Linked DNA regions of Homo sapiens: all the other regions are linked to region 3. Evidence: fine-mapped expression QTL. A gene starts in region 3. Each other region holds a variant in brackets. All regions are shown on one strand. Distances are between the middles of the regions. Region 1 overlaps CRYZL2P-SEC16B (CRYZL2P-SEC16B readthrough). Region 2 overlaps CRYZL2P-SEC16B (CRYZL2P-SEC16B readthrough). Region 3 holds the start of SEC16B (SEC16 homolog B, endoplasmic reticulum export factor).

Evidence for each region. PIP is the estimated chance that this variant, and not a neighbour inherited with it, causes the effect. A credible set is the group of variants that fine-mapping cannot tell apart.
Region 1: its variant is the best candidate, but not a certain one, in a credible set for the expression of SEC16B in tibial nerve (GTEx, PIP 0.75).
Region 2: its variant is the best candidate, but not a certain one, in a credible set for the expression of SEC16B in tibial nerve (GTEx, PIP 0.52).

The regions. Positions count from the first base shown.
Region 1 is chr1:177,931,702-177,936,925 of GRCh38, reverse strand. CRYZL2P-SEC16B (CRYZL2P-SEC16B readthrough) reads left to right here. Exons shown (of 32, transcript NM_001356506.2): 26 at 561-628; 27 at 3,290-3,442; 28 at 3,614-3,712; 29 at 4,117-4,228; 30 at 4,357-4,436. It overlaps SEC16B (SEC16 homolog B, endoplasmic reticulum export factor), which reads left to right. Exons shown (of 26, transcript NM_033127.4): 20 at 561-628; 21 at 3,290-3,442; 22 at 3,614-3,712; 23 at 4,120-4,228; 24 at 4,357-4,436. Among named protein-coding and RNA genes, the nearest start is that of SEC16B, 36 kb to the left of the region's middle. RefSeq lists an enhancer at 1-86. The variant T/G (reference allele first, on the strand shown) is at 2,957.
Region 2 is chr1:177,925,401-177,930,624 of GRCh38, reverse strand. It overlaps CRYZL2P-SEC16B (CRYZL2P-SEC16B readthrough), which reads left to right. Exons shown (of 32, transcript NM_001356506.2): 31 at 1-80; 32 at 696-1,837. The coding sequence ends at 767. SEC16B (SEC16 homolog B, endoplasmic reticulum export factor) reads left to right here. Exons shown (of 26, transcript NM_033127.4): 25 at 1-80; 26 at 696-1,837. The coding sequence ends at 767. Among named protein-coding and RNA genes, the nearest start is that of SEC16B, 42 kb to the left of the region's middle. The variant A/G (reference allele first, on the strand shown) is at 2,784.
Region 3 is chr1:177,967,953-177,973,176 of GRCh38, reverse strand. SEC16B (SEC16 homolog B, endoplasmic reticulum export factor) reads left to right here and starts at 3,119. Exons shown (of 26, transcript NM_033127.4): 1 at 3,119-3,293; 2 at 5,138-5,224. The coding sequence starts at 5,196. CRYZL2P-SEC16B (CRYZL2P-SEC16B readthrough) reads left to right here. Exons shown (of 32, transcript NM_001356506.2): 8 at 5,138-5,224. The coding sequence starts at 5,196.

The DNA.
Region 1 (5,224 bases), 36 kb after region 3:
GGAGAGAGATTACAGGGTGGAAAAATATAGGCCAAGTTCTCTTTCTCCAATCATCCTGCACTCAAGAGCTTACTATCAGGCTCTCCAGCAGAAACCCATGTTTCTGTCTTGGTCCCGAGTTTCTTCAGGCCCATCAGACCTTCGACAACAAGGGCTGAGTATGGGTAAGCAATGCTGAGTGATGCCAGGGAGATGGTGGAAGCCATCTAGAATGATTAGCTCTTAGACCTTCCAGGATTAGGTCCTGTCCAAGATGGAGGCTCAGATGGAGAGGAGTGGTGGAGGATCCCTGTGACCTAGCTTGATGTTGCTCTGATTTCCAAGATTCCTGAAGAGTGGCTTTGGAAGTAGAGGATGAGTTGAACAGCATGTCCTGGGGTGGCTGGGATTGAGATGAGCTACGTGAGCATTCTTTGTATTTGCTGTGATTGGCTTGGGCTTATGGGCTCCGAGCTTCTGCTGCAGTTAAGAAAGCTGATTGTGTCCCAGTTACCCTTCTTCAGGATAGATGGGAAAAGCACAACTTCCAATTGCTATTTCCATTTCTGTTTGTGATGCAGGAGAGAACACAGTGTCTCAAGAAACTTCCCAGCCTCCTGATGGCCAAGAGGTCATTTCCAAACCACAGGTGAGAGCGCACAGCATAAAAGATGCCACTGCCCACTCAAATGCTTCTGGTTTTTACCAGTTGCCTTGGTTTCCCAGCCACATGCAAGCTCCTCCTCAGTGTTGCAGCAGCTTTCTCTTCCACATCTCGCCTTGCCTTTTCCTATTCCAACTCCTGGGAGCTGGGCGGGAGGCTGTGTTCTTGTTTACGCTCAGCCCCACAAACCTGTGTCCATGGGGAGAGAGGGAGCAACTGAGCTGATTCGTTTTGGCCTCTCAGATCTCTGTTACCTCTGACATCTTCTCAGTGCTGCACAAAACGCTTGCCCTACCCTGTCCTGCCATGGAAGACTGTTGATATTTCCTTGTTTTAATTTTTACCTGGCTTTATTTCAAAGAAAGATCTGTGGTAGCTGTGACAGTGCCTGCCTGTCTTTTCTCCTCAGTTAGGCTGTAAGGTCCTCATGTCTGGTGAATCATTCCATCTAGCTCTGATTGGACACACCCCTGCCCTCAGCAATGGGCAGTGTTGGTCCCAAACCTGAGGCGTTCTTCAGCTTCTCCTGGTTGGAGGGTTACATCCTATAACTTTTTAAAGTAGAAAAACAGGGGTACAGGTCTTAACAAACTTTAATGTTTTTCCGTTTTTTTTTTTTTCCTGACTGAAGTGGTACATTATTGTTATAGAAAAATCTAATAGTGAAGTATCATATAAAGAATCAAATATCATTCAATCCAACAGTCAGAATATTTTTCTTTTCTTATACTATTTTTCTATATATACACACATATACTCACATATATGTATATCTGTATATACATTATACACATATACATGTTTTTAAATGGCTAAGAACATATGTATGCAAAGCTTTATTTCATATCTGTTACTTAACACTCTATGAGATTTTTCTATGTCATTCATAAATATGATTTTTAATATTGGCATGACGAAATTGATTTTATGAAAGTAGCGCTATTCATTCATTTATTTGAAATATTCACTGAGTTCCTACAATGTGCCAGACCCTGTCACAGGGGCTGGGGAGGCATCAGCACATCAGACCAAGCCTAACCTCAGGCGCTCAAGTCTAGTGGAAGTGACTAAAAATAGACAACTATACGCGCCAGGCATCTCACTTCAGAGGGGTGGCCAAGGAAGGTGTCTCTGAGGAGGCCTTCAAGTGGAGATCAGGGTGGAGCATGGAAATGAGCCAGGTGAATATCTGGGGGAAAGGTGTTTGAGGCAGAGAAACAGCAGGACTGGAGGCCCTGCAGTGGCTCCCTTGGTGTAGTTAAGGGAGAGCAAGGGAGCCACTGTGCCCTGAGAGTGGGGAGCAGTAGGGAGGAGGGCTGAGAAACAAGGCTGGAGGGCAGCAGAGGTAAACTTATGGGGCCTCCACGACCATGGTAAGGAGCTCGCATTCTGGTGGATCATTCCCATGTTGTCGTTAATCATTGTGAGTGTTGCGTCCTTTCCCCTCCCTCCCTCCATTCCTCCTTCCTTTTCTCACTCATATATAACACACAGTGCTGGTCATCCTAGTATATAAGCCCTTGTCTATGTCTTGAATCATTCACTTAGAAGAAATTCCTAGAAGGAAAGCCAGACAGCCTACTTTTAACCTTTGCTGTGCCATTTATGAGCTGTGTGACCCGACACAGGTTGCTTAACCTTTCTGTGCCTTAGTTTTCTTATATATAAAATGAGATAATAATAGCACCTAGCTCACAGGACTATTGTAAGGATTAAATGAATCACTACATATAAAGCCCTTAAAACAGTGCCCGGCACAAAGTCAACACTATATTCATTTGAATAAAAAATAAAGTTTTTTTCTTTATTTTCCTAAAGTATTTCCAAAGGTTTGTATCAATTGTGCTCTATTGAGAGTAAAAAATGTAAATATAACAGAAGAGGGCAATATGTCATATGACTCCACCTACGTGAGATACATAGAATAGGCAAATTCAGAGACATAAAGTGGAATGGCAGTGACCAGGGCCTGGGGGAAGGGGAGATGGGGAGTTAGGTAATGGGGATGATGAAAAAGTTCTGGAGATGGCTAGTGGTGATGGTTGTACGACACTGTGTGTATACTTACTGCCACTGAATTGTACATTTAAAAATAGTTAAAATGGCAAGCTTTATCCTGTATCTATCTTACCACAAAAAAAAAAAAAGTTAATGTAAAGGGATGTGGGTGTATTTTACCCCCCTTTGGTGCATATGTTCACAGTTGAGCTTGAGCAAGTCTGTTAGGAAATGAGCTCTAAGATGAGTTATGTTTGGTGGTTGCTACATTCTCTGTTTTTTTTTTTTTGGGGGGAGCTTGTGGGCCTCTGTGGG[T/G]TGTTTTCTGGCCCTCTTCATCTCCAGCAGTAGCAGTCCATACCCCCTACTCCAGGCCTTGGCATAGTTCTGAAAACTGTCTGTTTCTGGAGAGGTGGCACACCAGACAAAGGTCTGTAGAATTAGGGATAACATGGGCTTGGGCTCTGTCCTTATCCTGCGACCTTCAGTGAGTCATTTTTCATGGCTGAGCCTTCCTTCCTCTTCAGTACAATATGATCCTGAGACAACAGTCCCACTGCCTTCTGAGCAGGTCAGGTGAGGGAGTATGTGCAAATGTGTTTGGTAACCTGTCAAGTGCCATGCAAATGTGAGTTATTTCTTTAATTCCAGACACCATTGGCTGCTAGACCACGAAGTATTTCTGAGAGTTCCGCCAGTTCAGCCAAGGAGGATGAGAAGGAGTCCTCTGATGAGGCTGATAAAAACTCTCCCCGAAATACTGCCCAGAGAGGCAAGCTCGGAGATGGGAAGGAGCATACAAAGGTGGAGGGACTTGTTCTTCTCTCCCCTGCCTTCCTTCCCCTGCCATTCCCTTCCTCGAGGGTGGTGCAGACTTGGAAGTCTGGGCTCTGATGGTTACATGGGGGCGGGTTAACCTCATAGTTGGGGAAGAAGCCAACCTGCAGGTCATAAAATGTCCTCTTCCCCTTCCAGAGCTCAGGGTTTGGCTGGTTCAGCTGGTTTCGATCGAAGCCCACCAAGAACGCATCCCCCGCTGGAGACGAGGACTCCTCAGACAGCCCTGACTCTGAGGTAGGCTCTGTGGGAGGGGGAGGATGCCCCTCTCTGTGGGTCTTTCAGAGGGAGCTGCCTCAGCACCTAGGAGCTCTCAGAGCTGGCACCTGAGTCTACCCCAGGCCACATGAGACAGAGGTTTTGTGATGGGATATGGTGGGAAATGAATGGGTCCTGTGAGGGCAAAGGCAGATTAAAAAAGCTTTAAAAAGTTTGGATGAAGAAATGTAACTTTAGAGGGTCAGCAGTAGGGAGCTAGTGTGGATTGTTGAGCAGAAGAGTGGGATGAGGAGGGGGGTTTTGGGGAGTGCCCAGCAGCAGTTTGTGGCAAGGCCGCCATCGTGAGTGTGGGAACACAAATTGGCGGGCATCAATTTGTTAACTGCCAATGTTGCCAATGCTGCCTTTCTTTCTCCACAAAGCAGGAGACCCCCAGAGCATCTTCTCCCCACCAGGCTGGCCTGGGCCTCTCACTGACACCTTCCCCTGAGTCCCCACCTCTGCCGGATGTTAGTGCCTTCTCCAGGGGCAGAGGTACCGTCACCTCACGTCCTCTGGGCCATGGGTGGTCCCCTCAGCACTCCCAAGGGTTGGGGTGCCTTCTGGGAGTGGGGACCCCCAGTCCTGAGCAGAGGAAACAGCTCTGCCTCATTACTTTCCAGGTGGGGGTGAAGGCCGAGGATCCGCATCCAGCGGGGGAGCAGCTGCGGGCGCTGGGGTTGGAGGCTTGTCTGGACCAGAGGTAAGCGGCCCCCCTGGGCTGGAGCCTCGGACCCCAGCAGATGCCTGTGTGTGAGGACTGAACCTTCAGTGTGGGCAGTGCTGACTCCTGGCGAACCTGAAGAATGCTTCTCTGCTGTGTTAGTTTGCTCAGGCTGTCATAACAAAGTACCACAGAACAGAGGCTCAGACCACAGAAACCGAATTTCTCACAGTTCTCCAGGCTGAAAGCTGAGGTCCAGGTTTCAGCAGGGTTGTGTCTTTTGAGACCTCTTTCCTTGGCTTGTGCCCGGCCATCTTCTTTCCACGTCTTCACATGGCCTTTCCTCTGAGCGTGTCTGTGTTCAGATTTCTTCCTCTTATAGGGACATCAGTCATACTGGAATGGGCTACCAATATGACCTCCATTTATGTTAATTGCCTCTTTAAAGACCCCATCTCCAAATGTTGTATTTTTATGTTTCTCCAAACATATGTTTTCTGAGGTACTGGGGGTTAGGGCTTCAACACGTGATTTTTTTTTTTTCTGGGAACACAGTTCAACCTATAACAGCTTCCTCGGGGGAAGCCTGGGGACTTGCCTTTTTCCCTGTCCCAGGAGGAGGTGGAGTTCACTGGAGACCTTGGCCAGGGCTGTGACAAATTCTTGATGAGTTGTCCACATCAGTATGGATTTCATATCTATTGCTAGGAAAACATTTTTATTTCTTTAAGTCTGGTTAGATAACTCTTGTAGAGTTTTAGGCCTTTTGAAGGCTATATTACTTTTTATGATGGTATCAATATAATTTATTGAGGCTTTTTCTTCTT
Region 2 (5,224 bases), 43 kb after region 3:
GCTCCAACCCTGGTGTTCTTCTTCCTCCACCTGCCTTAAAAGGGGCTGTTCCTCTTTACAACCCATCTCAGGTGCCTCAGGTAAGGAAGCCCTCAGGGGGAGGGGCTGGCCAGGAGTACAGGTTTTGGATTAAGGAGACCTAGGTTTATCATCCCAGTTTACCATTTATGATATGTGAGTTCTTGAGCAATTATTTAGCCTCTCCAAGTCTCAGTTTCTGCATCTGTAAAGTGGGATTAGTAGTAGCTAGCTCAGAGATATGTATATGAAGGGCCTGGAACCCAGAAAATGGTCAATAAATGTAGTTACTATTAATATCATGTTTAAATTTTAATAGCTCTTGAGATGTGGGAGACACAGTTGGTGTTGGTATCAGTAGTGTGGGTGCAGTGTCACTCTGTCCTGGGGATGAAGGGATCATTGGAAACTTTGAGAGAAGCTAAGTTCCCTGTTCCTCAGCAATCTGGGTAGACTTAGCTCTGCTAATGTCTCATTTGGCCTCCTCTCTTTATAAAAATCAAATTTCTTTTACCACAGTTAGGTGAAGGGTTGGGTGGAGGTACGCAATTAGAACACAACCTTGGGAAATGTTCTACACAGAGGCTCAGGGTGCCCTAGCTCCATCTGTCCAATCAACCCCGGGCAGAGTCATGTTTGGGGCTGTACTCAGTGTAATATTTGTTCTTCTTTTCCAGCTGCCCACGGCCACTAGCCTGAATCGGCCAAATCGCCTAGCTCAGCGTCGCTATCCCACCCAGCCATGCTGAGAATAAACACACGTCCCAGGCTCATCTCCCAGGACTGAAACTTTCTTGCTCTCTTTTTCTCAATCTCCCAGCCCCTCTCTACCATATTGGGACCCTCAAGAGGTTTGTGCTAGCCCGATGCCTCCACCGGGCACTTAGAAGGCAAGAGGACAGGATCTCTCAAGACACAGCACAATTCAGTCTCTTAAGATTAGCTTCACAATGATGGAAATTATTTCATCAGGTGGAAAGTCTGGGTCTAATAGCAGACTGCACATGAGCAGAGTGACATGGTGGTGGCACTTATGGTGGTGGCTTGAGAGCCTTGGGGAAATTAGGGCCCTAACAGCTAGAATCAAAGATGATACCGCAGGGCCCTGTAGCAAGAAATGGGAAGCAGGGGGAGGGGCAGGGGCTCAGAACAATATTCTAGACCAACTTTGACTACTTCCTGTCTTAGTAATAGACCAATACATGGCTCTATTTAGCAAAGTTTTTATACTGAAACTTGATTATTGCTGCCCTTTATAATTTCCTCTTCAATGATATTTCAGCAGTTTCCCTCTTGGTCCTAGTTTTGTGCACATTTTTTTGAATGTGGTTCAGATTAATTATATTTCTCTCACTTTCTTAGCTGGTCCTATTTTTTCACATTCTGGCATGTGGCTATCAAGTTAGATTGCTGTAGGCATCATATTGTCATGGTAACTACTGAACCTAATGATGCAGATGGATGGCACATCAGTATAATAAATGATGGAAAACGGTTCCTAAAAATTCATCCCTTTCATAAGAGGGGAAGAATGAGTGCCTGATATTGTTAATACCTCCCTTTCTACCTCAGGCCTTTGCAAATTGATGTTCAGAGGGTCACTGGAGTGAGAGGGAGGAGGGGGGCGTCTTGGAAATTTCCATTTCTCTTTTCAAACCCAAAATAGGAATGACTCTTGCTGTTTGTCAGATTTGCTGAAAATTGCTCCTCACAAAGAACATTTTTTTTTGTACATGTAATTGTAAATACAGGTTTAGTACGTTAATGTTCTATAGTTCTGATATTGATAATAATTAAACCCAGATAATTTTATAGCAAATGCTTGTCTCTGGCTGATTTTTACAGAGGAAGAAAGTACATTGGTGGTCTCTTCCCTGAAGTCTTTCTAATAATGGTTTTATTGTGTGATCAAGTGTGAATAGCTGGAAAGAGCCCTTTGTTAATGAGGAATCTAGGGACAGATCCTCTTAACTTCTAAGTCTACTCTAATTTTATTATTTTTCCAATTTAAAAAATATGAACAAAAAGCTCCTCTGATGCAAGTCAGTCACTTTACTAACTGAACTAAGTGTTGTATATTTTGTTCCATAAAAAGTTGTTTTTAACCTCTTAGATTAAATTAGAAAATGTATGCATAAATGTTTTGCACCTGGAAGGCCCTCAGTAAATGCTGTTCCGCTTTTTTCCTTAAAAGGCTGCTGCTCCTTCAATTTGGTATGCTGACATCCAGTGGTGGTGCTGTGGCATTAGTGTGTGAGTTTCACAGGAGCCACACTGCTTAGTCTTGCATCCTGGCTCATCCGTAGCTCACCCTGTAACTTTGGGCAAGGTTACCTCACTGTCTTGTATTTCAGTTTTCTCATCTATAAAATTAAGATGATAATAATCATAGTACCTGCCCTACAGGGACATTGCAAAAATTAAATGAGTTAGGCCCTTAGAAATGGGCCTGGTATATGCTAGGTACAGTTGGCCCTTGAACAAAATGAGTTTGAACTGTGTGGGTCCACTTATACTTGGATTTTATTCTGCCTCTGCCTGTCCAAGACAGTAAGACCAACCCCTCTTCTTCCTCCTCCGCAGCCTACTGAATGTGAAGACTATGAAGATGAAGACCTTTATGATGATCCACTTTCACTTAATGAAGGGTCAATATATTTTCTCTTTCTTATGATTTTCTTAATCATGTTTTTTCTCTAGCTTACTTTAAGAATACAGTGTATAATACATATAACATATACAATATGTGTTAATTGACTGTTTAT[A/G]TTATCAATAAGGCTTCCAGTCAACAGTGGGCTATCAGCAGCTGAGTTTTTGGGGAGTCAAAAATCATATGTGGATTTTTGACTTTGCAGGGCTCAGTGCCCATCATGTCCACATTGTTCAAAGCTCAACTGTACTTTATTACAGTGTCTTTTATTGTTAATTTGCAATCTAATAAGATCTGGACTGTTTTTTTTGGGCCTACCAGATCTGACTATAGATTTTTTGTTCTTGATACCTGTATAGGACAGGAATGATGATTAAAACATACTTCTCAATATGTGTCATTGCCAAGTCAGTTTCTCTTCCTGCATCCCTTCTAACACCAACATTAGGCCATGAGGCTTTGTGCCCATGGGAGCAATGGCGTAGGGGAGGTCCTGTCCAAGAAATAAAGCACTTTAGGGGAGGAGATTGCAGACCAAAGAGGAAGGCACAGATGTCGGATGCCTGTGTCCTCATGTCCTCCTCCCGTTAAGAGAATTCATGGAATACCAGTGGCTACTGTCATGCTCAACAAAGCAAGCACTGAGTTTAGTTACCTCCCAGGCCAAAGGAATACAGAGCAATGAATATACTTTCTGAAGAGGAAGAGTCAGGGGTTTCTGTGCACTAGGAAGGGAGGAGGTTCTTGGTGTTTATGGTGATTCATAATTGAAAGATTTTACTCTGGCAAAGTCCGAATGTGTCGTTAATCTGTGTATGCTTGGTTAAAACAAGCCCAGTTGCTCATTGGTTAGGAATGTTAGGTCCAGTAAGGGTCTGAGGAACTGGGGTCACTCCCAGTTCTTAGTTGCCCATCTGTGTTCTTTGGGTAGTGGTGGTGGTATTGCTAAAGGTCATGGTTATTTTACAACTTCAACTGGTTAAAATCTGTTGTAGTGAAACAAAGCAAGTGCAGCTGTCAGAAGAAAATATTGTTTTCTCCTTTGATAAGGTGGAGGCTTGGGAAGGAGGCTTGGGAAATAGAGCAGGTTGTGACAGATATACACTGCTATGAAAGGGAGCATACTGGGCTAGTGGCCCTTTCCTCTAGCTCCCCTGGTAATCTTGGGAAGGGAGGCTGCAAGACTTGAGGAGAAGCTGGCTTTGGCTTGGCAGTGTGTCCAATGTGTCTGGGGAGCCATAGCAGCTTGGCTTTGGGGATCTGAGGCAGAGCTCCGAGCTCCCTGAAGCCTGCTGTAGTGTAGACTCTAGCAGAGAATAATTGCATAATGACCCCAAAGGCCAGATGGGACAAGTAGTATCCCAAAAGGCAAAAGGTCAGGAGTGGGCCAGACCAGCCACCAGCAATGAATAGGCCACACTGTGAAGGTCATAGCCCTCTTTTCCATCACCATGAGCTGTTTGGGGAGAGAGAATGAACAGAATTCTCTTTCTCTCTCAAAAAATGAAAGATCAAAAGACATGGTATGAAAGGGAAGAGCCTGAGATAATATTAATTGGCAAGTTTGTTTTTTCACCTGCTTCTTAACAGGATCCAAGCTTGGAGGAAAAATAGATCAGTCATAGGAAATGAGCCACACTTTCCTTGAAAAGCTGAGTAGTAGTGTGCAAATTTATGATTCTGCTATATACATATAATTCAATATTTATATGAAAACATTTAAACTTAATGTTCTATAATTTGAAAGTGAACAAACCACTAAATTCCATTTCAGGGTCTTTATCACATGTTACCATTCCAGCCCTCTGTCTAATCCCCTCATGTGGCTATAGAGCTGTAAATGAGCCGTGAGTCCTCAGTGACCTGTGTGTCCTCTCTGTTCAGCCCTCTCGCAGGCTTCAGGTTGCTCAGGATCAAAGCCTCTGCTAGCTTTGTTTTCCCCTAGAAAGTCTCTTTCTTTTTGGTCTCTTCCTCTGAGTAACCAAGAAGAGGAGCAAGAGACTGCATCTACTTCTTCACTAAAATCAGAAGATTTTCTACCCAAGAGGGAATGTGCAAAACCCTCTTTCTTCTTGAAAAGAATAATAGGTGTGTAATTTGGGTCTCTCCAATCACATGAGTTTCTCTCTCACTTTTTCCCCCAAAGAGTGGAATGGAAGTGACTTTTTCCCTCTTCTGTTTGCTGTCTTAAGCTGAAAATTGCATGAAGCATGATCTGCAAGCAACAGAATGTTAGGTACTTAACTGAGGTTGTCCCTAAATGTGGCCTCAACAACGGCCTGTTTTCATTTCGTTAATTGGCCATACTTATACCAGGCATCATTCATTCGGGTCCTTTAGAAATGGTTTCTTAATGAGATTTAAAGTTATTCTGAACAAGGATTAACAGCATATGAAAATGTTTTCTTTACAATCGCACTAGGTAGAGGAATCTTGTTCCCATACTTTCTTTCTTTTTGTATATTCCTGTTTCCAGATAATCAGGGTCAACAGCAGTTTAACTCAAACTCAACTGACCTTTGCAAACTGCTTGTTATTTTACTGTGAGATGTTTTC
Region 3 (5,224 bases):
ATCAGCACTAATCCGGTGGCTAAACATTAGCAGCATCATTAACAGTGATAATACTTTTGCTAGACAGGTGTCAAACTAGGGTAGTGTCTTAGTCAGTTTGGGTTACTGTAACAGAAAACCATAGACTAGGGCTTAAACAACAGAAATTTATTTCTCACCCTTCTGGAGGCTGGGAAGTCCAAGATCAAGATTCCAGCAGATCTGGTGTCTGGTGAGGGCCACTTCCTGGTTTGCAGATGGCCATCTTTTGGTTGTATTCTTACACACCAGAGAGCAGAGAGAGAGAGGAGAAGCAAACCCTCTTGTGTCTTTTTATAAGGGAACTAATTCCATTGACAAGGCTCCACTCTCATGCCCTAATTACTTCTTGGAGGCCTACCTCCTAATACCATCACATTGGGAGTTAGGTTTTCAACATATGAATTTTGGGAGGAAACAGACATTCAGTTCACAGCAGGCAGTTACTCTTGTTTGAAGCTAGACCCTAGACAGTGCTGTCCGGCATTTGGAAAGGAGGATGGAGACTGGGAAAGGAAATTCACATAAATTAGTAAACTTCTAGGACTCCAATCCTGGTGCATAGTTGGGATGCAGGGCAGGAATCAAGTATGAGGACAGAGCACTTGGGGCAGGATGATGTGAAGACTGTAGCCATTTGGGCATGAGGGAGCCTACTGGATTATCCAAGAACACTGCAGCCAGGACTTGGGGTGGCAAGACTCATTCTGGTCCACCTCCTGGTGGGGATTGAGCTCCTAATGTATTGTCAAACTGGGTCAATTTGGTTTAGAAATCAGGAAGAATTGAGCTGCCAGGTCGAAAGACTTAGTAATTGTAGTTATGTGGGGCTGGGAAGGTAGGAAATGATAAATCCTAAACCCTTTGGAGTGGTGAGATCCCATCACAATCTAGTTAATTTTGTGACCCATATAACTGTTGTATGCCATATGTCTATATAGAATAATTAAAGCTAATTAGAATTAATTTTGGTTGGTGAGTGTTTGAAGAGTTTCATAATAACTCTAGAGATAATTAGAGATACTTTGGGATGTCACAAAATAAGCATTTAGAATAATTTGACTAGATGTTTAAGCCAGGGTTGTGCAATGAAGGCTAGTAACAGAATGACAATTCTATAATTGCAAGAATGCTGAATCAGGAAGTAAGAGTTTGGGGTTCAAATCAGTATGCTGCTAAACAGGTTCTCTGAAATAAACCAGCAACCCACCAACAACCTTGCTTTGTAGCAGTTGCCAATTTCTGTGGTGTAAATACTCCCACCATGGTGGATTTCAAGTTTTCCATGGTTTAACAACCGGCTCACACAATTCCTGAATATTTAATAATCAGCTCTTACTAAACTTGCACTGGTGTGCAAGGCAGCTAGAGCACACCAGTGTAATTTTCACTGAACTTCTAGGTAACTTTGTGATCTTGGGTAAATCATTTCACTTGTTTGGATCTTGGTTTTATCATCAAAAAAGCATAGTTGCTAAAATAACCTCTAAGGTCCTTTTCAAAGTTAACATTCCCATAATGCAGCTGGTGTTACAGGGCAAGACTAATGTCACATTATATGCCAAAAGAGTGACATCAAGAACTTTTGTGAATGTTGTTGTGATATATCAGAACATATAATTTGATATCACGTCAGTGTAATCATCACCCACATTCTGATTCCTGCTGTTAATGTGCATGTTCTTCTCTAGTTCCTCTTCCCAGAAGGATTAAAAACAACAGTGCAGCCATTAGAGAGCCAAACTTCACAGCCCAAGAGTGAGGTAAGAAACCATTAGTGGCTAGGCATGGTGGCTTACGCCTGTAATCCCAGCACTTTGGGAGGCTCAGGCAGGTGGATCACAAGGTCAGGAGTTTGAGACCAGCCTGGCCAACATGATGAAACCCCTTCTTTACTAAAAATACAAAAATTAGCCAGGGGTGGTGGCACGCACCTGTAATCCCAGCTACTCGGGAGGCTGAGGCAGGAGAATTGCTTGAACCTGGGAGGTAGAGGTTGCAGTGAGCTGAGATTGTACCATTAAACTCCATCTCTGGGCGACAGAGAAAGACTCTGTCTTGGAAAAAAAAAAAAAGAAACCATTAGCTACAGTCAGAGAATTCTATGCTCAGTTGCTGGGTTCTAGAGTCAGCTGAGGGGCTGAGAGAAAATCTTGTAGCTTAGGTACATGACCCTATATGACCATGAGACCCAAGAGGGGTGGTTTTCCCTGGACTAGTAAGGACAGACATGAGAGACTAATTTGTGTCTTTTATATTTATGTGTGTCAAATCCTGGCCCTTAATAGGAACACAGTAAGCATTTGTTGAGAGAAAGAATAAACCATTTGGGATTTTTTAAAAGAGCAAATTCAGAATTTTAAAATATTAATTCAGAAGTAGTCATGTGCTTTTCTGCGTTTACCTTAATAATGCAGAAGAAATGTATATTTCAAGTGCGAGAAACTACTTTCTTGTTATAATGGAAAACTTTTTAGTGCCTTCAGTTCAGTACTGGGGATATAAATCTGCCTTCCAGCTAGATGACAGAATTTATTACATAACCAGAACCCAATGGTGAGAAATATACATAAGAAAAACCCACACTGGGCAAACCAGGTGTTTGCTCCCACCAGTGAGCGTGTCCCCTTCCCCATGTGCCTCAACCAGTGGAATTAACTTGTCTCTTTGGGAAGGAAAAGATAATATTGATCTGCAGGGCATACTTACCTATATATCATGTGCTGCTTTACCAACATTTCAGCCCCGTAATGACCCTCATAAGCTAAGCATTGCCATTCCCATTTTAAAGAAAAAGAAACTGAAACTCGGAGAGGTTAAGTAACAGAACCAGCTAGTGGTAGAGCCCCGAGTTAACACCCCAAAGGTGGTGCTTTTCTCGCCAGACCAGGCTGCCTTGGGGCTTCTGGACTTCCTCTTCCTGATGTCTCTCTTCCGTGATTGCTGTGGGAATTTGGATGATTTCTCATGTGAGTGAACCTGGCTCAGCCCATGCTCAGGCAAACAGAAGCGCCAGTCTCTGACAGGGTTCTGAGCAAATTCGTCAAGTCAGGCGGGTCCTGGGCTGCGGTATCTGGGCTGTACTTTGCCCTAATGAATCAGCTCCATGGAGGTTGGGCAGTTGCAAAGGTAACTGACATGATGTAGATCTGAGGGCCTGGGGAGTCTTGGTAGATGTGGCACCTGGACTTTGACAGTCTCCAAGAGGAGAGGAGGCACTCTTGGGCCAGGTCCCTGGAGCAGCGCTGAAGGAAGGTGGGAAGCCATCAGAGCAGGTGTGTGGGAACACTCGCTCCCTTCTTTCCCCTCTTTGAGCTGGACGTGCTGTGCCGTCAGATTAGGAAAGGCAAGATTGCCTTTACTGGGGCTAGGAAAGGTCATCTACATGAATGTGTGAGTCTGATTTGTCATCATAGATGTAATTCCTTCATTTTGAGAATCGAAGGTGTTATTTATTTGGTGTCCTTAATCTGAGGACTGATTTGCTGGAGTTGATGTCTCTTGGCAGCAAAATGATGTGATTTCAGTGGAAAGATTGGGTGTTGCACCTTTGCAGTTGGGAAAGGGCTGCCTAATGAGACTATCTGGGGACAAGGAGAAAGCAGGTTTCTTCTCATTCTGCTTACTTGGTCCAAATGGTTTTGAGTTCCACCAGCCTTCAGAAAAGGCTCATGTGCCCTTCCCTGTGTCTGGGACATTTGGCCTTTCCTGGGATTTGCTGGCAAAGGCTGTCATTGCACCTGGCTTTTTCAAGGGAGTGAGATGATATGGGAAGGAAGCCAGAGGTTCCCCTGAGTTGTGAGTGACCTTGAGGTGGGAGGCCCCCTCCGCACCTTGTTCTTCTTGTGTGTTCTGCCGTCTCATAGCTCTTGGCTCATAGCTGTCGACCTCGGCTCCCTGGTGTTTGAGCAGAGTGACGTCTCAATTTCAACACCCACTCTTTTGACCTTTTGTTCTGATATGAATTTTTATATGAGGCTGGGACCTTCAGTAGTGGAAACAAGTTAACTGATTTGATCAGAATCTTGCAACCTAAAACAGTTCCTAAGGAAGAAAAAAATCGAGGCCGACCTAGCCTGTGGATGCTCCTGACACAAGGAATCCCTGAGCAAGAGTAAGATCTGAGGCGTGCTTTCCTTTTGTGGGTGCAACCCCTGTCCCCCGCTACCCCGTGCAATGGGCAGAGGAACCTGGAAGGTAATCAGTCCTTGGAGCAATTTCCCTTTTTCAGGATTACGTGGGGGAAAATTAGTTTGATGCTAGGGAGACTTTCAGCATTTAAAATCTCCAACCGGGAAGAATCCTGAGATATGGCCTTCTATTTTCTTATGAAAACAATCCCAAATTTGCCTCTTGTTGGCTCCTCTGGAGGAGGAGCAGGTATGACCATATTATATAGGTTCTAGTTCTTTGAGGGGGTTAATGTAAGGATTCAGAAAAGGTGCTTCTTGAAAAGGTCAGTCTAAATTTCTTTTTGTTTAATAAACATCTTCAGCCACTCATACTACCCTAATCTTTATCCTTGATAACACTGCTATTTATTGAGCATTTTAACATGTTAGGTAACATGTTACGCACTTCGCATAGGTTATCTTTAACTCTGTCAATAACCTTGCAAGGTAGTCCTTACAGTCTCCATTTCATGGGTAAGGAAATTGAGGCTTGAAAAAATGAACTAGCTAGTTAAGTGGCAGAGTTAGGATTTGAACTCTGATCTAGCTCTCTGCAAGACCCACTCTGTTTATGATACCACAGGGCCTCCGCTGTAAGTGTTAAATAAACACTTGCTGGGGGAATATGTGAAGAAACATCAACTGGGATTCCTTGATAGCATTTTTAGCTGTACCTATTATTGTTATCTGTCTCCCTTGCCTCCCTCATCTGTCGTTGTTCCACATGTACTTTTTAATTTTTTAAGCAATATTAATATAATTGTCTAGTCTGTTATTTGCTTCATGTATCTGAGATTGTTTCTCAGATTTCTCTGTATCCGTGACCATATGGTTTGTTTTAGATATATTTCGAGGACCATAGCTGCTCTTTTCACAAAACCTAATCAACCACTATGTTTGGATATAGGCTTCAAGTGATGATTTTTTCCTTTTTCTTTTGTCTGCAGGAAGATAAAATAACTGCACAACTTACTCAAAACCCAGGACAAATTCAGAGAGTCAAGGATGGAACTTTGGGCTCCCCAGAGGCTGCC